4 separate regions of the Homo sapiens genome follow, and regions 1, 2 and 3 are each linked to region 4. Evidence: fine-mapped expression QTL. A gene starts in region 4. Each other region holds a variant in brackets. All regions are shown on one strand. Distances are between the middles of the regions.

Region 1 (7,558 bases), 20 kb before region 4:
AATTCCAGACACCTGGCACACACTGGGGAGTGTCCTGGGTGGTGTTGGTGGTGGTGGGAGGAGAGAAGGCTTCCTAGCATGTCACAGTAGGGCCAACTAGCCCACCCTCTTTGCCATTTTACATGCAAGGAAACTGGCCCAAAGGGGAGGCCCCTGGCCCAGGGGCTTGTCACGGCAGAGCCAGGGCTGGAACCCAGCTCTCTGGATTGCCAGTCTTTCTTCAGGCGCTAGCAGATCATGTTCTCTGAGGCCTGGAATTGCCTCCTTCCTCACATCCACCTCTCTCCCCACCCCTGCCATGTGCCATGAGCAATCCTGCCCATGCTGCCCTAGGCCCGGCTCCCTGCCCCTCTTCCGGGGAGCCTTTGCCATCCTGAGTTAGAACCACTTGTTCTCTTTAGTCTGTAGCAAGTGTGTCTGTCTGTTCCTGGGTGACTCGCCCCATCTCCGCAGCTGATCTCTGAAACAAGTGCCAAGGGGTAGGACAGTACAATGGACGAGGCACTGGGCTTGACTTTGAACCTGAGTGGGCCTCCAACTTGCTGTGTGACTGAGGGAGGTCATTTCACCTCTCTGGGCTTCTATATCCCCCCCTGGTCTGGGTCAGGGTTGTTTGGATGTTATCCATGGAGTCTCTGACTCAAGGCAGAGTGGACAGGACCCTATCCCTGCCCTAGATTAAACTGCAGCAGTCTTTTTTTCTTTCTTAAATACTTGGGCTTTGGAGTTCTGAGGCACCCAAGTTTAAAGGCCATTCTGAGGTCCTTTCTACTCTGATCTTGCTCTCGGTATCTCTCACCCCACCCCACCATTAGCCAGGAGGAATATGGCATCTTACATAAAGTATTCTCAATAAAGATTTGGTGAACAGACTTGAGCGTCAGTGGCCAGGCGCGGTGACTTATGCCTGTAATCCCAGCACTTTGGGAGGCTGAGGTGGGTGGATCACCTGAGGTCGGGAGTTTGAGACCAGCCTGGCCAACATGGTGAAACCCCGTCTCTACTAAAATTATAAAATTAGCCGGGCGTGGTGGTGCATGCCTGTAGTCCCAGCTACTTGGGAGGCTGAGGCAGGAGAATCACTTGAACCCGGGAGGCAGAGGTTGCAGTGAGATGAGATCACGCCACTTCACTCCAGCCTGGGCGAAAGAGCGAAACTCTGTTGCCAAAAAAAAAAAAAAAAAAAAAAAAGAATTGAGCATCGAAGCAGGGCTGTGCTGAACCCAGCTCAACAGGGGAGGGGCAAGCAGGAAAGGAGACCCTGGAACAAGCTTCTAAGGTGAAGGCGGCCTTTGAGAAGGCAGCTGAGGCTGCCTTGAGTTTGTGGCTTCTGCTCCCCATCTCTTCCACGTTCCTTCCTGACTCGTCCCTGAAGTGAGCCACCGCCTCTCCCACGCCCTGCTGTGGGTGCCACAATGTCCTTGCACAAACCCTGCCCTGTCCCCTGCTGCCAGGGCCGCCCACACAGCTGGACGGACATGAGTCTGGCAGACACTGGTGTGGCTGAGCTCTCCTGGAACGAGGTTCGAAAGGGCTGTGGGGCTGGCAGGGAGCAACACTCCATGGCCTGGTCAGCTGGCCAAAAGCCAGGCAGCCCCCAGAGGCAGCCCCACCCGAGCTGGAGAGGTCTGCTGGGCTTCTCTGGGTCTCTCAGGGAGGACGGACTTGGTGTGCTTTTGGCAAGTCAAAGGCCCTGCTTTACGTTGTGTGGGTATGATGGTTCTGCTTTCAAATCTTGGCTCCTCCTGGAGCTACAAATTATACGCTAAAGTCTGGGCTCAGTGGTTCATTCCTGTAATCCCAGCACTTTGGGAGGATGAGGAGGGTGGATCACTTGAGGCCAGGAGTTCGAGACCAGCCTGGCCAACATAGCAAAATCTCGTCTCTACTAAAAATACAAAAATTAGCCGGATGGTGTCACACGCCTGTAATCCCAGATACTTGGGAGTCTGAGGCACAACATCGCTTGAGCCTGGGAGGTGGAAGTTGCAGTGAGCAGAGATCGTGCCACTACACTCCAGCCTGAGTGACAGAGCAAGACTCTGTCTCAAAAAAAAAAAAAAAAAAAAAAAAGTACACTCTTGCCTTTATCCTGTAGCAGGGCTTCCATGCCCCAGGGTAATTAAGGACCACCCTAATTGTACAAGCGTGGCCACTTACAATTAGAAAAGCCTGTATATGCAATGTCTAATTCTGAGCCGGGTAAGAAAAGGCATTAGAAGTAAAAAGGAGAACCATTGTTACAGCCCCAAGAAGTTCCATTAGGACATTTACTAACATAATGTTTGAATTTCATCGTCATTGTCATCTTCATCGTTCTAGCACCCACCCACTTCTGAACTGCTCTAACCTTTATTACCATCTGCCATGTTCTCTGGACCACTCTTCATAGTCATTCGTGCATTCATCCCAGAACATCTCAGCAGGAGAGTCTTCAATCTTTGAGAACCTACTATGTGCCAGACCCTGTCAGGCACTTTTTCAATTTTTTTTTTTTTTTTTTTAGACAGAGTTTTCCTCTTGTTGCCCAGGCTGGAGTGCAATGGCGTGGTCTCTGCTCACTGCAACCTCTGCCTCCCAGGTTCAAGTGATTCTCCTGCCTCAGCCTCCCAAGTAGCTGGGATTACTGGTGCCCATCAGCATGCCCAGCTAATTTTTATATTTTTAGTAGAGACGGGGTTTCACCATGTTGGCCAGGCTGGCCTAGAACTCCCGACCTCAGGTGATCCACCCGCCTCAGCCTCCCAAAGTGCTGGGATTATAGGCATGAGCTACCTCGCCTGGCCAATTTTACTTTATTTAGTCATCACAGCAACCCTGCGAAGTTGATTGTTAGGATGCTTTTGGCTGCAAGTCACAGAAACCTTGGTTCCACTGGATCGAGCCAGGGGTCCCTCACTGAACAATGAAGGAATTGATGGAAATAGTCCAGATGTGGGTGGCTCCAGGGCAGAGTAATCCAGCTGCTGAACTGTGCCACCAGACTAATGTTCTTTCCACATTTCCTTCCATTCTATCATCTCTCTTTTTTTTTTTTTTTTTTTTTTTTTTTTTTGAGACGGAGTCTCGCTCTGTTGCCTA[C/G]GTTGGAGTGCAGTAGCGCGATCTCCGCTCACTGCAAGCTCCGCCTTCCGGGTTCACGCCATTCTCCTGCCTCGGCCTCAGCTGGGACTACAGGGGCCCGCCACCATGCCCGGCTAATTTTTTGTATTTTTAGTAGAGACGGGGTTTCACCATGTTAGCCAGGATGGTCTCGATATCCTGACCTCGTGATCTGCCCACCTCGGCCTCCCAAAGTGCTGGGATTACAGGCGTGAGCCACCGCACCCGGCCTCCATTCTATCATCTTTAGTGTGTTGACTTAGTTCTCTGAATGGCTGCCTTCATCATAGCAAGATGGCTGCTGTAGCCCCAGCCATCATCACTGCAGACACACATACAGCTACAGAAAGACAATTGTTTGGCTGGGCGCGGTGGCTCATGCCTGTAATCCCACCATTTTGGGAGGCCGAGGTGGGTGGATTACCTGAGGTCGGGAATTCGAGACCAGCCTGGCCAACATGGTAAAACCCTGTCTCTACTAAAAATACAAAAATTAGCTGGGCATGGTGGCAGGCGCCTGTAATCCCAGCTACTTGGGAGGCTGAGGCAGAAGAATCGCTTGAGCCCCAGAGGTGGAGGTTGCAGTGAGCTGAGATCCCGCCACTTCACTCCAGCCTGGGTGACAGAGTGAGACTGTGTCTCAAAAAAAAAAAAAAAAAAAAAAAAAAAAAAAGAAAGAAAGACAATTGTTTCTCTCTCTCTCATGTTTTAAGATTGAGAAAATATGGCCAGGCGCGGTGGCTCACGCCTGTAATCCCAGCACTTTGGGAGGCCGAAGCGGGCGGATCACGAGGTCAGCAGATCGAGACCATCCTGGCTAACACGGCGAAACACCGTCTCTACTAAAAATACAAAAAATTAGCCGGGCGTGGTGGCGGGCGCCTGTCGTCCCAGCTACTCGGGAGGCTGAGGCAGGAGAACCGCGTGAACCCGGGAGGCAGTGCTTGCAGTGAGCGGAGATCGCGCCACTGCACTCCAGCCTGGGCGGCAGAGCAAGACTCCGTCTCAAAAAAAAAAAAAAAGAAAAAAAAAAAAAGATTGAGAAAATATGAAAATATTTCCTAAAACAAGCCCCCAACTCCCATGTCTTATTCACCAGAACTCGGTCACAGATCCATCCCCAAAGTGTTAGCAAGGGGGATGGGATGCTAAGATTAGCTCAGACTAATTGGGATTTCCCCCCAAGGCACGTGGAACTGAGGGGTGTGGGACTCCTGAAACAAATTCAGGGCACTAAGGAAGAAAGCAGGAGTGACTACTTTTTAGCAATCAACAGTGTCTGCCTCATGGGTAATTAATGTTATCTTCATTTTACAGGTGGGAAAACTGAGGCTGAGATAAAGTAATGACTTAATGGCACAGTAAGAGACCAAGTTACGATTTCAACCCAGAAATACTTGATTCCAAAGCCCCAACTCTACTGCATGATATACTAAGCACTATTATATCTCTACTTCTGAGTAGAATGCTCCAAGATTTTGCTGGGACAGGAAGGGTATAAATAGTACATACATACATACACTTCCATATTATTTTGGTGACAATAAAATTACGTCATAAAAATGTATATTTAGGCATGTTTAATTGACTAGCCTTTATTTAGGGGCTTCTAGAGGCATTCGGGATAGAATGGCCCCAGCATTGAACTTCATTGAGTCCCCAGTGAGGCAGTGTGAACAGATAACTACAACTTTTTTTTTTTTTTTTTTTTTGAGACAGAATCTCACTCTTTCTCCCAGGCTGGGGTGAAATAGTGCGATCTCAGCTCACTGCAACCTCCGCCCCGGGGTTCAAGCGATTCTCCTGCCTCTGCCTCCCGAGTAGCTGGAATTACAGGCGCCCCACACCCGGCTAATTTTTGTATTTTTAGTAGAGACGGGGTTTCACCATGTCGGCCAGGCTGGTCTCGAACTCTTGACCTCAGGTGATCCATCTGCCTCAGCCTCCCAAAGTGCTAGGATTACAGGCGTGAGCCACCACGCCCAGCCAACTACAACTCTTTGTGATAAATGCAGATTGCAATTGAAGCACAGAGCTGGGAAATGCCAGAGACTATTTTCACAGGAAAGGTAAAAACTGAGCTGGGTTTTGAAGGATGCATAGAAGTTTGCTCAAAAAACAAGAGGGAGAAAACATTCTTTGTAGGTAGAGAAAAGAGCCCCGTAAAGGCACGGGGCTTCAAAGTTCATATTGTGTTTAAGGAACAAGAGGAATTCAATGTGGTTAGAAATTAAGAAAAAGGAAGAGGCAAAAAGAGGAATTGGAGGCAATTTCCCAGAGGCCTTGTGTTCCAAGCTAAGGAGTTTGTCTTGATCCTGTAAGGCGCCTGGAAAATTTTTATTTATTTATTTTTATTTTTTATTTTTTTGAGATGGAGTCTCGCTCGGTCGCCCAGGCTGGAGTGCAGTGGTGCGATCTCGGCTCACTGCAACCTCTGTCACCTGGGTTCAAGCGATTCTCCTGCTTCAGCCTCCTGAGAGGCTGAAATTACAGGTGCGCACCACCACGCCCAGCTAATTTTTGTATTTTTAGTAGAGACGGGGTTTCACCGTGTTGGTCAGGCTGGTCTCAAACTCCTGACCTCGTGATCCACCCTCCTTAGCCTCCCAAAGTGCTAGGATTACAGGCGTGAGCCACCACACCCTGCCTTAAAGCAATGTTGTAAGGCAGGTTTAGGCTAAATTACATGAAATTGCCAATATTTGATGTGTCTAACAATGAAAACAGATGAGGAAGCCTGGAGGTGCAGAAACTTGGCACAGGTCACAAAGTCTCATGAGTCAAGAATCAAACCCAGATCTGTCTGATAAGGCCTCTAGAGTCAGGCAACCCTGAGTTCAAACTTCAGCCAACACTTACTAGCTGTGTGTCCTAAGATAACGTTATTTAACCTTTCTGAGTTTCAGTTGCTTCATCTATAAAATGGGGACGATAACTGAATCCACTTCATTAAGTGTGGATTAGAAGAGATAATGCATTGAAACAGCCAGCACAATGTCCAACACATAAGAGGTGCCCAATAAATGTCAGCCTTGCCTATCATCATTGCTATTAATATCCTAAAGTCTGGGCTGTTAAGCACCTTCCCAACCTGCTGTAGGAAAGATGCTTTCCGGAGTCGGTATGTCCCTGGGTAGAAAGGAAGGAGATTTTACTGCCAGAACCACGACAGTGCTGCTGGTAACAGTCTTCAAACTAACGGGGCGAGGAGAGCTGGGAGCTGTGTCCTCTAGTTTCTATCACCACAACCCTCTGATTGTTTCACCTCTCCTGAGGTTCTCCTGGCCACAGTGGGTGCAGCAGCCCTACCATTGCAGAGTGGCTGGCAGCTCTGCCCTCGCCCAGGGCATTCTCCTTAAGGAGCAACTTCTGTCTCCTTTGCCCGTGAACCAACCTGAATGAAGTGTATTTCCAGGAAATATAAGCTGCCTTTGCTTTCAAGAGTCACATCTGGCCAGGTGCAATGGCTCACGCCTGTAATCCCAGTACTTTGGGAGACCAAGGTGAGCAGATCACCTGAGGTCAGAAGTTTGAGACCAGCCTGGCCCAATGGTGAAACCCCATCTTTACTAAAAATACAAAAATTAGCCAGGCATGGTGGCGTGCGCCTGTAATCCCAACTACTCGGGAGGCTGAAACAGGAGTATCACTTAAGCCCAGGAGGTGGAGATTGCAGTGAGCCAGATCATGCCACTGCACTCCAGCTTGGGCGACAGAGCAACACCCTGTTTCAAAAAAAAAAAAAAAAGCCACATCTATCAGTGATGGGTCCTGCAGGTCCCCCTTGCTCTTGTACCTCATCTATGCACACCTCCCCAGTAGCTTTCTGGTTTTGTGTATAGACAGATGTTTCTGATATATGCGTGCATGCAGTTCTGTGTGTGTTTTCTGGGCTCAAAAGCATCTGCGCTGGCACAGGCTGAAGGCTGGCACCACCCTTGGCAGCAATAGCCCAAGGACACTTTTTTGTCCATTGCATTCCATGTCTGGGTGGGGCCCCTGCCTGCTGGGTAAGTATTGACTCCCTGCACTTTTCCATCTATATCTTGGAGTGTTCTTTTGGCAGAAACTACAAGTGCTGCTAACTTGAGAGTCCAAACCCCAGCACCCAGCTGTTCTCAGCATATCTCCCTGAGATGGGGTGCTTGGGCTCACGGACTGACATCATGGCAGCTGCCATAATAAAACACTGAAGGGGTGGGGAACAGGCAGGCTCACTAAGCCACACCTTGCTTTCAGAACTTTTGGATGTCCACAGATCTTTTTAGCACTGTCTGCCCTCTTTTGTGGCTGCATTCTTGCACAAGACCTGGTTGCCCCTAGCTTCGTCTCTCTGAAAAACATGTTCAGCTCCCTCCAGAGAAAACTCAGAAACTCCTATGCATTTTCCTGGAATCATTCTATAGCTCCAGCCTGGGAAAGCTTCCAAAAGTTTCCTGAACCAAAGATAATAATAATA
Region 2 (6,024 bases), 67 kb after region 4:
CTTTAGCAGGAAATGGCATCTAGAAAAAGGGAGGGGAGGAGAGGGCCTGGAGGGCCCCACCTTGCACACTGGCAGAACATACCCAGGTGGGTGGTGTTCAGATCTGGGCATGTCTGTCTCTGGGAGCCAAAAAACTGGATTGTGGTTGGAGGCAGGCAACCGAGGCAGAAATGGGCCTGGGGGTGGAGAAAGAAGAATGGAGAGAAGTGGGAGCGTTTAATCTGGGGAAGAGAAAGACAGGGGTCGTGGAGGGAGGTGGCAGTGCTGTGGGTAAAGGCCTCCTGGACTGACTCTGCAGCGGGGTGAGGAAGGACTGGACACAGTCACTGCGGCCCCTGGGGAAGCAAAGGAACAGTGGCTAGGATTTACAGTGCTTTATTTTGGCACAAAATTAGAAATATTTCCTTAAAAGATTTAAATACATTTAAATAACACTTTGCCAAAAGGTAAAAAGATCACAGAAGAGGATATTTGGGGCCCACACTGCTCCTGAGAGCCGGCCTAGCCTTAGGCTCCTCCCCCAGCCTGCTACTCCCAGGCTCAGAACCAAATGCTTTTTGTCACTCTCCCTCCGCCACCACCACCACTGAAACAGTGCTCACCACTGTTCTCACCTACCTGGCCTTTCAGCAGCATGCCACACCATCGGCCACACCTTCTCCTGTGAGCTGGGTTTCCCCCCACCCACCCTCTCCAAGTGGTCCTCCGTGGACTGCTCCTTCTCTGGTCCTTTGCTGGGGTCATTCTCTGTCAGTCACCTCTTTTTTTTTTTTTTCTTTTGAGACAGAGTCTTGGTCTGTCGCTCAGGTTGGAGTGCAGTGTCGTGATATCAGCTCACTGCAAGCTCTGCCTCCAGGATTCAAGAGATTCTCTTGCCTCAGCCTCCTGAGTAGCTGGGATTACAGGTGCATGCCACCATGACCCGCTAATTTTTTGTATTTTAGTAGAGATGGGGTTTCTCCACGTTGGCCAGCCTGGTCTTGAACTCCTGGCCTCAAGTGATCCACCCACCTCGGCCTCCCAAAGTGTGGGGATTACAGGCGTAAGCCACCGTGCCCAGCCTCTGCCAGTCATTTCTATCCTGCGTTTCCCTGGCTCGTGTCCCAGGCCTTTCAATCATCCCATCTTCTCACTCTATACCCTGCCTCCGTGTGTACATGGTGACCAGACTAAAACCCTATCCCAGGCCCCTGTTTAGGGTCTCAGACCACCATAGCCAATGGCCTAGTGTCCCACAGACATCTGGAATTCAGCCTGTCCCAGAGGGACCTTGTTGTCTCCTCTCTCTATCTATCGCTCTTCTTCTTCCAACTCTTCCTCCTGTAGGGAACAGGGGGGACCATGGTTTGTGCAGGAAACCTGGAGTCATCCTTCCCTTCTTCCTTTCCTCTAACCTCCATATCCACAATCCTGTCTCCTAAATATATCTCTCATGTCCATTCACATCTTCCCACTGCAACAACCAAACTCTTTTTTTTTCTTTTTTTTTTTAGACGGAGTGTGGCTCTGTCGCCAGACTGGAGTGCAGTGGAACCCTCTCAGCTAACTGCAACCTCTGCCTCCTGGGTTCAAGCGATTCTCCTGCCTCAGCCTCCCTAGTAGCTGGGACTATAGGCGCGTGCCACCATGCCCAGCTAATTTTTGTAGAGACGGGGTTTCACCACGTTGGCCAGGATGGTCTCGATCTCTTGACCTCGTGATCCGCCTGCCTTGGCCTCCCAAAGTTCTGGGATTACAAGTGTGAGCCACCACACCCGGCCTGTAACAAACTCTTGACGGGTCTCTCTTTGTCCAGTCTTGCCTCCCACTTCCATTTATTATGTCTCTCTGGCTTGAGGCCCTTCCATGGCTGTGTATGGAACACCCCACACCCCTCACCCCCCAGCCACCAGCCATCTGAATGGACTTCCTCCTCAGCCAGGGCAGTCTAAAATTTAACCTGAAAGACTGGTTCAGGCCATGAAGGGAAGCCAAGCCTCATTATACCCCTAACATCAACATCAACACAAACCTTATGTCTGATAAGAAACATTTACAGTCCATTCTCTCGAAAGCCTGCTACTGGAGGCTTCAACTGCATGATAAAACCTAGGTCTCCACAACCCCTTATCATAGCTCAGAGATTCCTTTCTGCTGACAATAACTCTTTCAACCAATTGCCAATCAGTTTATGTTCAAATCTAACTATGACCTGGAAGCCCCCCACTTCGAGTTGTCCCGTCCTTCCAGATCGAACCCATGTAAATCTTTTTTTTTTTTTCTTTGAGATGGAGTTTCGCTCTTGTTGCCCAGGCTGGAGTGCAATGGCGTGATCTTGGCTCACTGCAACCTCTGCCTCCCGGGTTCAAATGATTCTCCTGCCTCAGCCTCCCGAATAGCTGAGATTACAGGCATGCACCACCACACCCAGCTAATTTTTTTGTATTTTTAGTAGAGATGGTTTCTCCATGTTGGTCAGGCTGGTCTTGAACTCCCGACCTCAGGTGATCCTCCTGCCTTGGCCTCCCAAAGTGCTGGGATTACAGGCATGAGCCACCGCGCCCGGCCAGAACCCATGTAAATCTTACATATATTGATTGATGTATTATATCTCCCTAAAATGTATAAAAGCAAGCTGTACCTTGACCACCTTGCGCACCTGTCTTCAGGACCTCCTAAGGCTGTGTCATGGGCTTGTCCTTACCCTTGGCAAAAATAAACTTTCTAAAGGGACTGGGACCTGTCTCAGATATTTGGGGCTCACAAATCTCCATCACCCTCAGGACAAAATCCAAATGGCTGAGCAGAATTTCAAAGTCCTTTTGGGTCTGGCTTCTTTCCACCTTTGGGGACCCCAGCTCCCTGCACTCCCTCCCACCCTGTGAGCTCCAGCCAGCCTCACCCAAATGGCACCACTCACAGGCTGTTCGCTTGGCCTGGAAAATCTCTTCCTTGCTCATGGCTGACTTCAAGTCATCTTTCAGACCTGGATCCAGCTTCTCTCCCTCCAGGGAACCCTCCCTGGCTCCCCAGGGCTGGCTTAGCTGTGCCTCTCTGTGGGCTTGTCAAGAACCATGTGTTCAATGGCAGAGCCTTCATCCATGTGTTTTATCACTTGATTGCATCTCTGTATCCCAGGTTTCTAGAAGCTCTGTATGAGCAAGAACCTTGCCTGTCTTGCACTGCATTCCTAGAGCCTGGAACAGAATGCATTTGATAAATATTTTTGACTATTGATGAATCGAGACTTTTGACGAATTGGGTGCAGCCCAGGACTTGGGCAATAGCCCCTGCCTTAAGAAAGGACCAGGGCTCAAGCTCTAGGGTGAGAAGCTGAAGCTGACAGAGAAGTGAGAGTGACTAGAAAGTGAAAGTAAAGCTGAGCAGGGAGGAAAGAACCCCACGGTGTGAAGTCTCTGGGGGAGGGACCAGGCCAAGAGTTCATTCAACACAGTTGAGTGAGGCTCCTGAGGAAGCCGACGGGTGCCGGGATAGGCGGGGGATGTGTGGGCGGGACAGCGAGCTTGACGAAAACGAGAGAAAATGTGTTTTGTAATTAGTCATTGCCCCCTGGGGTGAGGTTGGGAGTTTTCACCGGAGGTGGGTTGACCAGATTTGCAAAATGACAAACAGGGGCTAACCGCGGGCTGGGGCCGCAGCGGGGCTTCCGGCCCCGCAGGCAGAAGTCGAGCTTTCTAGTTTTTTCTCTGTCC[C/T]GCCCCCCTGCATTCAAGGTTCCGCCAAATAGTAGAAACTGGGAGGAGAAAGACTCTCAGGAGACTGCCCAGGGGCCAAACTGCCCTTTCTGACTCCGGCCCCTGCGCTCTGCGTGGTCTCATGGCCAGGGGAAAGGGGACAGGGTGGCCCTTGCTACTTGGAAGGGTCCATCCAAGGATTTTGACTGACTTAACGCTGTGGAGGTTCTGGGGAAAGTTGAAAACATTCTGAAGATGGGGGATCTGGATGAAAGCTACCATCCCTCTTTTCCTCCTAATGAAAATAGCAGGCTGGGTGAGGTGGCTCACGCCTGTAATCCCAGCACTTTGGGAGGCTGAAGTGGGCAGGTCACCTAAGGTCAGGAGTTTGAGACCAGCCTGGCCAACATGGTGAAACCCCGTCTCTACTAAAACTGCAAAAGTTAGCCAGGCATAGTCTCAGCTACTCAGGAAGCTGAGACAGGAGAATCACTCGAACCCAGGAGGCAGAGGTTGTAGTGAGCCGAGATCGTGCCACTGCACTTCAGCCTGGGCGACAGAGCTAGACTCTGTCTAAAAAAAAAAAAAAGAAAAGAAAAAAAAATAGCAAAGGGAATGGAGCACATTTCGGTGTGAAGGTGTGAAGCGTATGGAAAAGTGGAGGTCAGTGGTTCCCCTACAGGCACTCCTGGGGTGCTGCAACCAAATGCTAGGACAGAGACCCCCACCCCCACCCCACTGCCGACACATACACAAAGGGCACACTTTGGTCTCCACTCCTCTATTTTCCAGAGCAGTGGCTTTCGAACATTTGAAATCAAGACCTGCACTAAGAAATGCGTTCCTATCTCAACCCATTACTCAGACAAGCATACTACCCTGAGGCAAAAACTTTATGAAATTAAACGTTCCTTTTAACCTGCACTTCTATTCTTACATTCTCTTCTATTTCCTTTTTTTAAAAAAAATTCTGGCTGGGCGTGGTGGCTCACGCCTGTAATTCCAGCACTCTGGGAGGCCAAGGCATGCGGATCACTTGAGGCCAGGAGTTCGAGACCAGCCTGGCCAACATGGCAAAACCCCGTCTCTACTAAAAATACAAAAAATTAGCCAGATGTGGTGGCAGGTGCCTGTAACGCCAACTACTTGAGAGGCTGAGGCTGGAGAATCACTTGAACCCAGGAGGTGGAGGTCAGTGAGCCAAGACTGTGAAACTGCACTCTAGCCTGGGCAGAGACTAGAGACTCTAGCCTGGACAGAATGAGACTGTCTCAAAAACAAACAAACAAAAAAATTCTGTGTATGACTATGATCCCTTAACTTGATTTCATGACCCACGAATGGATCTCAACCTACAACTGGAAAAACCCACTACTCTGGAGGAGCTGATTCCGTACTCTGCTGGATCTTCAATTCCTGACCGCTGGAAATTGGCTGCAATTTTCCTGGTGAGTTCCTCCCTCCATGTTCTCCTCACTAATACACCCTACACCAGACCTCCAGTCCTAAAAGCCACCACCTGCTTCACGTCACCACACCTGTGCCAATCAGATTTCCTCTGTTCCCTCTTGGACCTTCAGGGACCTCCAGGATAAATGCCAGGATCCCAGTTACTGGCAGACTGAGAGAAGGATGACAGCCCCAAAAGATCACGAGGTTCCTATCTGTTCATATTTGGTGGGCAGCTTTCGTCTGCAAGAACAAAATACAAGCCGGGTGAGGCGGCTCACATCTGTAATGCCAGTACTTTGGGAGGCCGAGGCAGGCGGATCACCTGATGTCAGGAGTTTGAGACCAGCCTGACCAACATGGCGAAACCCCATCTCTACTAAAAGTACAAAATTAGCCAGGTGTAGTGGTGCATGCCTGTAATCCCAGCTACTCGAGAGGCCGAGGCAGGAGAATCGCTTGAACCCGCGAGGCGGAGGTTGCAGTGAGCCGAGATCGCACCACTGCACTCCAGCCTGGGCGACAGAGAGAGACGCTGTCTCAAAATAAATAAATAAATAAATAAATAAATCAATAACAAAATACATAACTCAAGCAATTTAAACAGTGAGGGGTAAAACTGAAATCACATACCAGGAAGCCCAGAGGTCTGCGGTTCCAGGGTTGGTAAATGAAGTGACCACTCTATGTCTATTTCTCTCTTGTCATTGACACCCTTTGGAAGTGTCTTTTTCTACCTTAGTCTCAGTATGACAAGAGTGCTATGTCAGGGGGCTTTTGTAGGTAGCAGAAGGGAAGGGTGAGGCCAGGGTTTCAGCTGGCTGGGCAAGTGGGTGAGTCACTAAGTGGCTGGGCCCCTTTAGCCCCATGTAAGGACAGGCTGCAGCCACCCACTGCCCGCCCC
Region 3 (7,558 bases), 48 kb before region 4:
AACTCCTGGGCTCAAGTGATCCACCCACCTCGGCCTCCCAAAGTACTGGGATTAGAGGTATGAGCCACCACACCGGGCCTAATTTGTTTATTTTTATTATTTTTATTTTTTTGAGACAGGGTCTTGCTCTGATGCCCAGGCTGGAGTGCAGTGGTATGAACATGGCTTACTGCATCCTCAAACTCCTGGGCTCAAACAATCCTTCTGCCTCAGCCCCCCAAAGTGCTAGGATTAATTTGTTTATATAGACAGGAGGAGTTCCAGAAAAAACATTTTCCTGGGGTCTGACGTACCTTAAGGGTGGTCTTGACCACTACCTGGCCAACAGTGCCATGGATTTCAAAGATATTAGAATACATTAAAAACATGGATCTTAGAATAGATGTAATGCAACATTTAGTCTCTCAGAAAAGGCAAATTTATTTCTTTCTCACTTGAGGTATTCATTGCAGATTGTCAGGATACTCTGCTCCACAAGGTCATTCAGGGATCCAGGTTCTTTGCATTTTCCTGTCATCTCTTAGGGCATCATTTTTACTAGCATGGCAAAGCTAGGTCTCAGGCAAGATCATGTTCTGGTTCAAGGGAAGGGGAAAGAGTAAGGATGAGACATGCCCACTATCTTTTTTTTTTTTTTTGAGTCTCACTCTATCACCCAGGCTGGAGTGCAGTGGCATGATCTCAGCTCACTGCAACCTCCGCCTCCTGGGTTCAAGCAATTCTCATGTCTCAGCCTGCCGCATTCCCACTATCTTAAGGCCTAGGTGTAATCATCTCTTCTGCCCATATAGTGCAAACTTAGTCATGTGGTCACACCTAACTGCAAGGTGTCCCCCAAGTGACTACTCACTCCAGGGCTGGGACTCACATGTACTACGATTTGAACTGCAAGGAAAATTGGGAAATGCTATCTCCAGCTGAGCAACTATGGACCCAACTACATATATGTTACTATGAAAAAATGGGAGGAAAAATCTTGGTAAAACTCTGGCAGTCTCCATTTTAGAGATCCATCTGAATGAACCATCTCAGATGCTAGTTTATCTTAGAGATACCTGAAAGAGTTCTTGTTTGTCACCTGGAGGTTGATTTGGACAATCATGGCACAGGTATTATACTACCACTCGGCAGAGTCTTCTTTAAACTTTTAGCTCTCACCTTAATCAATTTAAGAGTGAGCTTCTTTTTGGTATAAAGACTTTGGTAGGTCAGGTGTGGTGGCTCACACCTATAATCCTAGCACTTCAGGAGGCCGAGGTGGGCAGATCACTTGAACTCAGGAGTTCGCGATCAGCCTGGGCAACATGGTGAGACTCCATCTCTACTAAAAATACAAATAGTAGCTGGGTGTGGTGGTGCACACTTATAATTCTAGCTACTCTGGAGGCTGAAGAGGGAGGATTCTTTGAGCCTAGGAGGTTGAGGCTGCAGTGAGCTGAGATCTCACACTACACTCCAGCCTGAGCGACAGAGTGAGACCCTGCCTCAAAAAAAAAAAAAAAAAAGAAAAGAAAAGAAAAGAAAAAAAAGACTGTGGTAGCTATGTATTGCTTTTTGTCATCAAGAATCCTTTCACCTGTCTCCCAGTGGTAGTATGCTACTTTCCTCTTGGGAACCCCACTTCCCCATTCTTGATGTCCCACAGACAGAGTTGACTCCACTCCCAGATCCAGAAGTGGTTATGTGACTACAACCTGGCCACTTAGGCCATCACATTCCCCAGCCATGGTGTCTTGCTTGATGATGGATTCATGTTCAAGTCAGAGCCAGTTCAGTGGAATGAGACTTTTGCTGGGACTGCAAAAAGAAAAGCACTTCATGTTTTTTCCTCACAAGTCTCAGGCATAGGAAGAGGTGGGACTGGATTGCTGGCAGCCATCTTATCCCAACAAGAAAACGCTATGGAGAAGAGCAGCATCGGGGATAAAGATAAAGCCAAATCTTGGTGATATTGTTTGAATCCCTGGATCAAGCTTGGCCTGAACCAGCACAATGCCTAATCCCTGGTCTGCTTAGTTATATGAAACAGCATCCCAATTTAAAGTCATTTAGAGGTGAATTTTCTGTCACTTAGTGCAACCGAGAGAGTAATAACTGATGCGAAGGCCACATAGACTTGGCCTTTTTTTTTTTTTTCCTGAAGTATAAATTCCCTTAGCATCTGTGTGGCCCAGCACTACACTCTGGATCTCCTTAGCTGTCTGGTCACTGAATGGGGACTGCTACTTGGCCGTGATTCTCAACCAGGGGTAATTTTGCCCCCAAGGGACAGTTTTGTCATGGAGTTGGGGGAGGCGCTACTGGCATCTTGTGGATAGAGGCCAGGGATATTCCAAAACATCCTACAATGTACAGGGCAGCCCCGACAACGAAGAATAATCCAGCCCAAACTGTCATTAGTGCTCTGTAGATGGTTTTGGCTGCTATAACAAAATACCTTAGACTGGGTAATTTATAAACAATGGAAATTTATCATTCACAGTTCTGGAGACTGGAAAGTCCAAGGTCAAGGCGCCAGCAGATTCAGTGTCTTGTGAGGGCTCATTCCTCATACATGGTGCCTCCTCTGTGTCCTTGCATGGCAGAAGGGGTCAACAAGCTCCTTCAGGCCTCTTTTATAAAAGTCTTAATCCCATTCATGAGGGGAGAGCCCTCAGGACCTAATCATGTGGCAGGCAGATTGTCTGAGGTCAGGAGTTCGAGACCAGCCTGGCCAACGTGGAGAAACTCTGTCTCTACTAAAAAAAAAAAAAAAAAATAGCCTGCTGTGGTAGTGCACACCTGTAGTCCCGACTACTCGGGAGGCTGAGGCAGGAGAATTGCTTGAACCTGGGAGGTGGAAGTTGCAATAAGCCGAGATCACACCATTGCACTCCAGCCTGGATGACAGAGCAAGGCTCTGTCTCAAAAAACAAATAAATAGGCCGGGCGCGGTGGCTCACGCCTGTAATCCCAGCACTCTGGGAGGCCGAGGTGGGTGGATCAAGATGTCAGGAGATGGAGACTATCCTGGCTAACACGGTGAAACCCCGCCTCTACTAAAAATACAAAAAATTAGCCAGGCGCCGTGGCAGGCACCTGTAGTCCCAGCTACTCGGGAGGCTGGGCAGGAGAATGGCGTGAACCCTGGAAGCGGAACTTGCAGTGAGCCGAGATCTTGCCACTGCACTCTGTCTGCCTGGGCGACAGAGCGAAACTCTGTCTCAAAACAAAAAAAAACAAAAACAAAATAAATAAACAAACAAATAAATAAATAAATAAAGAGTGTTAGGAGCCTTCTCTCCTGTAAGCTGTGAACAACTAAGCTTGTTTAGGTCCTGAAATGTCACTGTCATTGTCAGCATGATAAATGCTTTGTGCTGTAATAATACAGAGAAACAGGATGTCTATTCCCCAAAGCCTCTGTGATGGAGAAGGTGGGCTTTCCAGAGGCTCTGACTGTGGAATGTGTCTAGAATCCTCTGCATGTTTTCCAGGTTCACCTCCACACCCTCATCTCTGCTCAGCCGGGTCCTTGCTAGGAGCAGGAACCTGCCTGGTGGGTCTCTGATGGCAGCCCCATGCTCTGCAGACCCCGGACTCTCCGCAGCCCCAGCTCCTGCCTTGTCCTGTTGTCTTCCACCAAGGGGCACCCTTCTTTAAAAAGCTGGACTCTTTTTTTTTTTTTTTTTTTTTTGAGATAGGTTCTTGCTCTATCACCCAGGCTGGAGTGCAATAGTGCAATCACAGCTCACTGCTGCCTCCACTGCCTGGGCTTAAGTAATCCTCCTGCCTCAGTCTCCTGAGTAGCAGGGACCACAGACACACACCAACACTCCAAGCTAATTTTTAAAAATTATTTGTAGGGATGAGGTCTCGCTATGTTGCCCAGGCTGGTCTCAAGCTCCTGGCCTCAAGGGATCCTCCTGCCTTAGCCTCCCAAAGTGCTGGGATTACAGGAGTGAGCCACTATGCCCGGCCCAAGACTGACTCTTAAAAAAGGACAGAGCTAGTCCCAAGCTTGTGCAAGGACAGTGAGAGAGGGGAGACTCAGAAGTAGCCAATTTTTCCCCCAGTAATTAATAAGACATTTAAAGGACTTATCAGGTCACCACAGCTCCATCATCCCTGGGGAATTGTTTGGTTTAGCAGAACTGTTCCCACCCTGCCCCCCTTTGCTTTCTTCTTTCCTTGCCCAGACCCCTCCCCCAACTTAGTTGACGTTGCACAAAGCTTTCAAAAAAACAAGTTTTGTTCCCAGGTCAGCTATATCCTCCCAGGAAGTTTCCCCATCCCAGGGTGAAGTCAGGCCAACACAGGGTGAAGAGTTAGGAGGTCAGGGGCGGGGGAGGGGCGGGTGTTTTGCACGGGACAAGGAGTTCTTTTTTGTTGTTGTTATTCTTTGCGTCATTTCCAGAGAGA[C/T]AGGAAGGAAAACATAGTAAACATTCTTCAATTCTGCACAAAAGCCGAGAAGGGATTTTCTTCAGGAACCTCCTTGTGGCTCTGCCATGGCGGGGAGGGTTGGGGGTAAGAAATATAAGACCCAATTCCCTGTGGAGGCGGGGATTCGGTGAAACCAATCCCTTGAATGTGGGGTGGAACCAACATGTAACTCAATTTGCTTTGGCTCTCACTGTGCATTTGAGCTAAAGCAAGGGAAGCATTTCCCCTTCCCCTGGCTGAAAGCTCAGCTGACCCCGAGGCTCTTCTGGTCATGCTTAGGTATGTACATTTTATGTCACGAAATCCAGTATCGACTTAGAGATTTAAAGCAGCCACCCAAAGATATTAAATGACTCTTGCATTTTTCTTCAAAGAGAAATCTTCTTCCTCCTGCCCTAGTTAAGGCCTTAGTTGGGGGCTGCCAGCTGCCAGGGACTGGGCATGGTGGCTTTTGTCTATTCTCTCCCGAATACCCCTCTCCCCACTTGCTGGTTGCTTTCAGAGTCTAAGTGGAGGTGGTGGGTGAGGATGCAGGGAAGCGGATGGGGAGCAGGGGAATAGGGCAGTTTTTACTTGACTGTATGATTGCCAGCTCTCTGGGTGTGGCAGATGGTGAAAGCTCTTTCTGGAGGGTTCCCTGTGTTCTTCAGAAGTTCCCATCTCAGCCAGGCTTGGTGGCTCACGCCTATAATCCCAGCACTTTGGAAGGCGGAGGCGGGCAGATCACTGGAGCCCAGGAGTACTAGACCAGCCCGAGCAACATGGCTAAACCTCATCTCTACCAAAAATACAAAAAGTATCTGGGGGTGGTGCTGCACGCCTGTAGTCCCAGCTACTTGGGAGGCTGAGGCAGGAGGATTGCTTGAACCCAGGAGGTAGAGGTTGCTGTGAGCCGAGTTTGGGCCACTGGACTCCAGCTTGGGCAACAGAGTGAGACCCTGTCTTAAAAAAAAAAAAAAAAAAAGTTCCCATCTCTAAGGTTTTCTCCTGAAGTTCCCTGTTCTGCACCTCCATTTCAGGTACAGCTATGACTCCATCTTCAACCCCTAGAAATCCAGCATCCTCTTCCAACTTCTTTCTGCTGACATCCCTTTGCCCTTCTCAGAGGCCCTACAGGACTTAAAATGACCCCCACCTTGGCCCTCTCTCCTGCCATGGTCCATCTGATCCACATGTGGCCCATGGGAAGAACTCACACAGCCCCTTCACTCATCCTAATGCAGTCCCTCCTGGCACAGTCCCATGGGGGCCCACAGCTCCAAGTGGCTGCATGGAAGCCCCCATCACTAGGCTTGAGTTGAAAGCAGTAGGGCCCCTAACTCCTTGGTGGGGTAGCTTACAGCATGGCTTTGCCCTTTCTGGAAGTTTCTATTTCCAAACTCTCCCCATTCTCCACACTCTATATTGTTGGTAGGCTGAGGGCCCTGAGTGCTATGCAACTGGTTCCCCATTATTTCCTTTGTAAATACTACATATGGGAGTCTGTCTCATGTTCAGTTTGCTATCTGATGATATTGTGGTAGCCTGCTTCCACAATGGCCCCTCATTGTCCCCATCTCCTGGTATTCACATCATTGTGTCTCCTCCCTCCGTGAACAGGGCCGACCCTTGTAGCCACTTGCTATTGCAGAGCTGATGGCATGCATCTTCTGAGGCTAGGTCATTGTTGTGTGTTTAATGATGTCCCCCAGAAGATATGTTGCAGCCCTAACCCCCAGGGCCTATAAATGTGACCTTTTCTGGAAATAGTCTTCGCAGTTGTAATCAAGGGTTGTTCTTGACTAGAGTGGGCCCTACATCCAATGACTGGTGTTCTCATAAGGAGAGAGAGACAAAGAGTAGACAGACACAAGGGAGAAGGCCGTGTGAAGATGGAGACAGAGATTGGAATGATACAGCCACAAGCCAAGAAACATCTGCGGCCGTCAGAAGTTGGAAGAGGCAAGGAATGATTTATTCTTTCCCACTCATTGTTTCACCAATGAGCACCTTCCATGTGCCACCGTTCTGACCCTGCTGACAATGTGGTTTCAGACTTCTGGCCCCCAGAACTGTGAAAGAGTAAATTTCTGTTAAGTTATCTTGCTTGTGGTACTTTGTTACAGCAGCCCTGTGGATCTAATATAGTCATAAGAGACATTGTGACCTCCTCCCTGCTCTCTTGAACCACTCATTCTGGGAGAAGTCAGCTGCCATGTCATGAAGCTACTCAGGGAGGTCCATGGAGAGGTCCACATGGCAAGGAACTGAGGCCTCCTGCCAGTAGCCAGCACCATCTTGCTGGCCATGTGAGCGTGCCATCTTAGATGCAGATCATACGGCCCCAGTCAAGCCTTCAAATGACTGCATCCCTACTTGACATTTTGACTGTAACCTCATGACAAACCCTAAGCCAGAACACCAGCTAAGCCACTCCCCAATTCCTCATCAAGAGAAACTGAGATAATAAATGTTTATTATTGTTTTAAGCTACTAAATTTTGAGGTAATCTGTTATGTAGCAATAGATAACTAATACTGATATCTGTCATATTGGGGCCTCAGTGTAACTTGGAACAGAAAGAGTTCCATATTATAATTCTTAAACATTACTTGGAATGGTTAGGGGCCCCAGTGCTATTCTCTCTGGGGATATTTCCAGCAATGGGCCCCACAGCCATTTATAGTGAGTTGTCCCACTTACTCTTTCACCAGTGAGCACTTTCCATGTGTCAGATGCCATATTAGAGACTGGGGCTATAGAAATGAACAGTCTTTTGGGAGGCCGAGGCAGGTGGATCACCTGAGGTCAAGAATTTGAGACCAGTCTGACCAACATGGAGAAACCCCGTCTCTACTAAAAAAAAAAAAAATACAAAATTAGCTGGGTGTGGTGGTGCATGCCTGTAATCCCAGCTACTTGGGAGGCTGAGGCAGGAGAATCACTTGAACCTGAGAGGCGGAGGTTGTGGTAAGCCAAGATTACACCATTGCACTCCAGCCTGGGCAACAAGAGTGAAATTCCATCTCAAAAAAAGAAAAAAAAGAAATGAACAGCCCTGTTCTTAATCACTTAACCAGTGGTCATTATGGTCTCTGCTAGTAGAGCACTATGGGCAAGAAGGACAGCACTGCTTTGCAGGGAAGGGAAAAGAGAG
Region 4 (5,600 bases):
ATGTATGTGTGTATATATATCTCCTTTAGTAACAGTGAAGACAGAGACAGACAGGGAGATGGAGACATATGTGTGTGCATACCAAACATAACACCATGACATAGAATCCAACTTGCTTTCTCTAGCAGCCTGGCTGGAGGGTTGTGGCTAAGTTGCTATTTCCCTAATATTTTTGGTTTAATAAAGGGAAGGGCTGAATAAATATTAATGTAAAGAAATGGGTCACCCAACCGAGCCAAAGCTAAGGAGCCCCAGGCTGGCGGGGATGTCAAACCATTTCCCACCCCTATGTTTTGACTCACTCCAGGGTAGCGGTAGTGTGGGGAGGGCTGAAGTCTGGGAGAGTGAGGCAATGCTCCCCAAGCAACTCTTTGCAGAGGAATCACTGCAAAGTGCCAGCAGGCCAGAGAAAGTTTATTATTGCTCTAGAGTGCACAGTGAGCTCACTGTTTTGCAAAAACAGAAATCTGGCTGCTTTGAGATGAAAGAGGGGCTCCCTAGGGCTCCTCCTCCTCTTCTGTCCTTAAAAACTCGCCTTTCCTTTGCACTCAGGGGCCCCAGAATGAGTGGGAGATTGGGGCTCTGGGGAGGGTTGGATAGGGGAACAGGCTCTGGAAGTCAAGTGTCAAAATAAAAGTAAGTATCTCTTGTTGCTTCCACTGAACTTTATTGCAATTACTAGTAATAAGAGTGATAATAGTGATCCTCACAATTTATGCAGTTTACTAAGTACTGTCACATGTCAACCAGCAATAGTACCAACACTAGTATCAATACTAATAATAACTAACACTAACTGTGAGTCCAACACTGCTCTCCATTCTGTATGGTGTATTTAAGTTACAGTCTGGTAGTGACAGATCTACAACTTCTGTATATAGAACTCAGTGGTACAAATGCGCTTGGAAGGGGAGGCTGGGGGTTGGTTATGAAGGTGTATTGGCATAGTACTTACGTAAGATTGTATGTAACACCAAATCAACTGGGGCTGATGGGAATTTTGAGCACCCCAAACCACCTCTGCAAGCCTGAGCTTGTCAAAGACACCTCAAATCAGATTTACTGGATTCAAATCCCAGCCCCATCACTAATGGCTGTAGGCAAGTTATATAGCCTCTTTACTTTCCTGGTTTGTAAAATGGAGGTAAAAGAATCTACCCTGTAGATAATATTAAGGGTTTAATACTGTAATAGGCCGGTCACGGTGGGTCATGCCTGTAATCCCAGCACTTTGGGAGGCTGAGGCGGGAGGATCACCTGAGGTCAGGAGTTCGAGACCAGCCTGGCCAACATGGTGAAAGTCCGTCTCTACTAAAAATACAAAAATGAGCTGGGTGTGGTGGCGGGCGCCTGTATCCCCAGGTACTTGGGAGACTGAGGCAGGAGAATTGCTTGAACCTGGGAGGTGGAGGTTGCAGTGAGCTGAGATTGCGTCACTGTACTCCAGCCTGGGTGACAGAGTGGACTCTGTCTCAAAACAACAACAAAATACTATAGATAATATCCCCTTAATAATGTAGATAATATTAAGGGTGATGCAAGTAAAGCCACCTAGTTTACTAAGGTCCCACGGCAAGTCTAAGTAAGCGTTATCTCTTCTTATGACAAGAAACAAATTGAGGCCGGGTGAGGTGGCTCATGCCTGTAATCCCAACACTTTGGGAGGCCAAGGTGGGTGCATCACTTGGGCCCAGGAGTTTGAGACCAGCCTGGGCAACACGGCAAAACCCCATCCCTTTCCAAAAATACAAAAAAATTGGCCAGGTGTAATGGCACATGCCTGTAGTCCCAGCTACTAGGGAGGCTGAGGTGGGAGGATTACTTGAGCCTGGGAGGTCAGGCTGCTGCCAGCCGCGAGTGTGCCACTGCACTCCAGCCTGGGCAACAGAACAAGATCCTATCTCAAAAAAACAAAAAACCGAAGTTGAAATCTCAAACAACCCTAACAACCTGGGAGCTATCATTCCATTCTCTTTTCCATGGAAAAGAGAGATTTTGTGGGTAACTAGCTTAAGGGTGGAGAGCCAGTTAGTGATGGAGAGGAAATTTCAATCTGGTGGGCCACACTTCAGAATCCGAAATCCCATTATATTGCTTTCCCTTCTCCAGCCTTCCCTGGGATTATCTCAGTTTTCATGAAATAAAAAAAAAAAAAAAAGCAAACCCAATAATTAGAATAATCAATAGAAATGCCCCAACTAGAGCTATGACCAACATATCCATCGTGCCATAAGCAATACTGATGAGCAGTGATCTTGTAAGGCAGAAGAAATCACGGCCTTGGCCGGGCGTGGTGGTTCATGCTTGTAATCCCAGCACTTTGGAAGGCCGAGGCGGGAGGATCACCTGAGGTCAGGAGTTCAAGACCAGCTGGCTAACATGGTGAAACCATGTCTCTACAAAAATACAAAAAATTAGCTGGGCCTGATGGCGGGTGCCGGTAATCACAGCTACTTGGGAGGCTGAGGCGGAAGAATCGCTTGAACCTGCGAGGCAGAGGTTGCAGTGAGCCGAGATCGCGCCATTTTGCACTCCAGCCTGGGCGACAGAGCAAGACTCCGTCTTAAAAAAAAAAAAAAAAAAAAATCACGGCCTTGTTCCGCCTTCTGGGGCAACATGGAGTGAGATCACAGCGCCTGAGAAAGAACTTTGAAAACTGCGGCTGTGCTTTACAAAAATGTATCAGTATTATTAAATGCTGCCTCCACCTTTTAAAAATCAAACTCTAGAAAAAACACTCACCTGTTTGGCCTCTCCGGCCCCTCCCCCTCCCTGCCCTGAACTGCAGCTGTGCGCAGCCAGTTGCCTGTTTTCCTTAAAGGCCTCGGGGTGCTCGTATCTTCTTCAGACGTTCAGCCAAAATTTTTAAAGTGCGGCTGGGGGGAAGGGTAGCGCACTCTGAATTCATTTAGCTCTATCGTTGAAGCCCGGGTTCCTAGATCAGGGCACAAAAACAAATAGAAAAGACAATTTCTGGAAGATTGGAAAACAGCTAATTTTGCAGGTGCTTCGGCATCAGTGGTGGCGATGAATTTAACATCCATGCCGGGGGGGATAAGGTTCAACCGCAGATGAAATGGTTAATACCTTATACGAAATTCACGGCGAAAAATCCTGAAACAGGACATTTAAATTCACTGCCGAGGCTTGGGGGTGGGGTGGGGAGCAGGGATCGGAAACGACGCTAGTGGTTCTTAAATGCGTTTTTACTTGGGAATGCCCGGCAGGGAAAGGAAAGGTCATCGTCTGTTTAATTTCCACCCCCAGCTCTGGACTTCCAGCATTAGCTCGCCGGGCCTCAGCTGTTGTACACACACGGCGAGGGGGGAGGGGAGGGCGGAGGCGCGGAGGAGGGGCCGGCTGGGAGGAATCTGGGCGTCCTGCCGCGCATGCGCCTTGCCTGAGCAACAAGTGGGCTCCACAGAGGAAGTGTAAAGGGGAGGGGGAAGAACTGGTGCAGAGCATGGCGGTGACGTCAGCGCTCCGCCCGGGCGGCATCCCGCGCGGCCAAGCCGGGGACAGCGCGAGCCGCAGCCGGAGCAGGAGCGCCGAGACGCGCCTCCGGAACGTAGAGTAACAATCACAACCCCACATTCCGGGCGAGCGTGAGCACGAGCGGGAAGGGATGCGACCCGGGCCGAGGCGCCGCGCGAGCGCCCTGCAGCCAACGTGAGCGCCGCCAGCCGCGGCGGCCCGGGCGCCGGCCAGGCCTGGGGGCGGCGGGAGCCTGCGTGCGTGCACTCCTCTCCTCTGCTCTCGTGCGTCCTGGAAGCAGTGGCCGCGGCGGCTCCCTCCGGGGTGCAAACCCAGTCGCCGCCAGCAGAACGGCCGACGCTGCGGAGGGGAGAAGGTCCTTTCTCGGCTGCCACCCCCTCCCCCGGTCCTCCGGGGAAGCAGCGGCTTCAGCAAGATTGGACCCGGGCACCGGGTGGCACTGAACCCTCTGGCCCTCGCCCCAGGGGGCCCGTCGGGGAGAGGACGCAGCTCGTAGGGGGGTCCCCGGGGAGAGGAAGAGACAGCCCCTTTCGAGCTTCCACGCACCAGCCACTCCGGGGAGGGGGCCAAGAGGCAACGGCGGCCACCACCGGGCACCCTCGCCCCCTCCCCTCGGGCCGGGAGCTTCCAGCCCAAGTCTGCAGCACCAGGAAGAAGGCGCCTGAGCTCCCCTCGCGACGAGTCAACCGCAGTAGGAGGTGGGGGCGAAGAGAGGGCTGAACCCGTCCGCTGCCCGGGCGGTGGAGCCCCCACGGCGAGGCGCTGCGCCGGCGGTGGAGACTCGCGTTCCCTCCAGCCCCTGGGGCAGAACTTTCTCGCCCCCCCTCCTCCCTCCCCCGCAGTCGGACTCCCTCCCCAGCCGGCCAGTCCTCCCGGAGGAGAAGGCGCCGCGGAGACAGCCCGGGCGGGGGCCTACCTTCCCCAGGGCAGGCATCATGTCGGCGGCGCAGGTGTCCTCGTCCCGGAGACAATCTTGCTACCTGTGCGACCTGCCCCGCATGCCCTGGGCCATGATCTGGGACTTCTCGGAACCCGTATGCCGCGGTTGCGTCAACTACGAGGGCGCTGATCGCATCGAATTCGTGATCGAGACAGCGCGCCAGCTGAAGCGGGCGCACGGCTGCTTCCAGGACGGCCGCTCCCCCGGGCCGCCGCCGCCCGTCGGGGTCAAGACAGTGGCCCTGTCGGCTAAGGAAGCGGCGGCGGCGGCGGCAGCAGCGGCGGCCGCCGCCGCCGCCGCGCAACAGCAACAGCAACAGCAGCAGCAGCAGCAGCAACAGCAGCAGCAGCAGCAGCAGCAGCAGCAGCAACAACAGCTCAACCACGTTGATGGTTCCAGCAAGCCTGCGGTGCTGGCGGCCCCGTCTGGCCTGGAGCGCTACGGCCTAAGCGCTGCCGCCGCCGCCGCCGCCGCCGCCGCCGCTGCGGTGGAACAGCGCAGCCGCTTCGAGTACCCGCCACCGCCGGTGAGCCTGGGAAGCAGCAGCCACACCGCGCGACTGCCCAACGGCCTGGGGGGCCCAAACGGCTTCCCCAAACCAACACCAGAGGAGGGACCCCCAGAGCTGAACCGTCAGAGCCCCAATTCTTCTTCAGCGGCGGCGTCGGTGGCGTCTCGGCGTGGAACGCACGGTGGGCTGGTTACGGGGCTGCCCAACCCGGGGGGTGGCGGAGGCCCCCAGCTCACCGTGCCCCCCAACCTGCTACCGCAGACGCTGCTTAACGGCCCGGCCAGCGCTGCGGTACTCCCCCCACCCCCTCCCCACGCCCTGGGCAGCCGTGGGCCCCCGACGCCTGCTCCCCCAGGGGCTCCTGGGGGCCCCGCTTGTCTCGGGGGTACCCCGGGTGTATCGGCCACGTCGTCCTCCGCGTCGTCTTCGACCTCTTCGTCGGTGGCAGAGGTGGGCGTGGGTGCTGGTGGTAAGAGGCCCGGCTCGGTGTCGAGCACAGACCAGGAGCGCGAGTTGAAGGAGAAGCAGCGCAACGCCGAGGCCCTGGCCGAGCTGAGCGAGAGCCTGCGCAACCGCGCCGAGGAGTGGGCCAGCAAGCCCAAGATGGTCCGCGACACGCTGCTCACGCTGGCAGGCTGCACGCCCTACGAGGTT

What was found. PIP is the estimated chance that this variant, and not a neighbour inherited with it, causes the effect.
Region 1: its variant is fine-mapped to the expression of IRF2BPL in whole blood (TOPMed, PIP above 0.99).
Region 2: its variant is fine-mapped to the expression of IRF2BPL in whole blood (TOPMed, PIP above 0.99).
Region 3: its variant is fine-mapped to the expression of IRF2BPL in whole blood (TOPMed, PIP above 0.99).

What each region holds. Positions count from the first base shown.
Region 1 is chr14:77,045,280-77,052,837 of GRCh38, reverse strand. All of the region lies in intron 1 of LINC02288 (long intergenic non-protein coding RNA 2288), which reads right to left. Among named protein-coding and RNA genes, the nearest start is that of LINC02288, 8.0 kb to the right of the region's middle. The variant C/G (reference allele first, on the strand shown) is at 3,082.
Region 2 is chr14:76,959,483-76,965,506 of GRCh38, reverse strand. LINC01629 (long intergenic non-protein coding RNA 1629) reads right to left here and starts at 5,869. Exons shown (of 3, transcript NR_133913.1): 1 at 5,754-5,869; 2 at 2,900-3,176. RefSeq lists enhancers at 3,327-3,621, 3,322-3,721, 3,732-3,781, 3,832-4,041, 3,826-4,361 and 2 more. The variant C/T (reference allele first, on the strand shown) is at 3,693.
Region 3 is chr14:77,073,248-77,080,805 of GRCh38, reverse strand. LINC02289 (long intergenic non-protein coding RNA 2289) reads left to right here and starts at 4,615. Exons shown (of 3, transcript NR_110553.1): 1 at 4,615-4,701. RefSeq lists a silencer at 4,466-4,760. The variant C/T (reference allele first, on the strand shown) is at 4,402.
Region 4 is chr14:77,026,623-77,032,222 of GRCh38, reverse strand. IRF2BPL (interferon regulatory factor 2 binding protein like) reads left to right here and starts at 3,515. Exons shown (of 1, transcript NM_024496.4): 1 at 3,515-5,600. The coding sequence starts at 4,431. LOC107984638 (a long non-coding RNA gene) reads right to left here and starts at 4,755. Exons shown (of 4, transcript NR_190002.1): 1 at 4,412-4,755; 2 at 2,743-2,935; 3 at 2,487-2,562; 4 at 651-2,396. LOC105370579 (a long non-coding RNA gene) reads left to right here. Exons shown (of 2, transcript NR_169510.1): 2 at 1-664. RefSeq lists an enhancer at 1,942-2,462 and silencers at 3,226-3,355, 3,556-3,765, 3,886-4,385.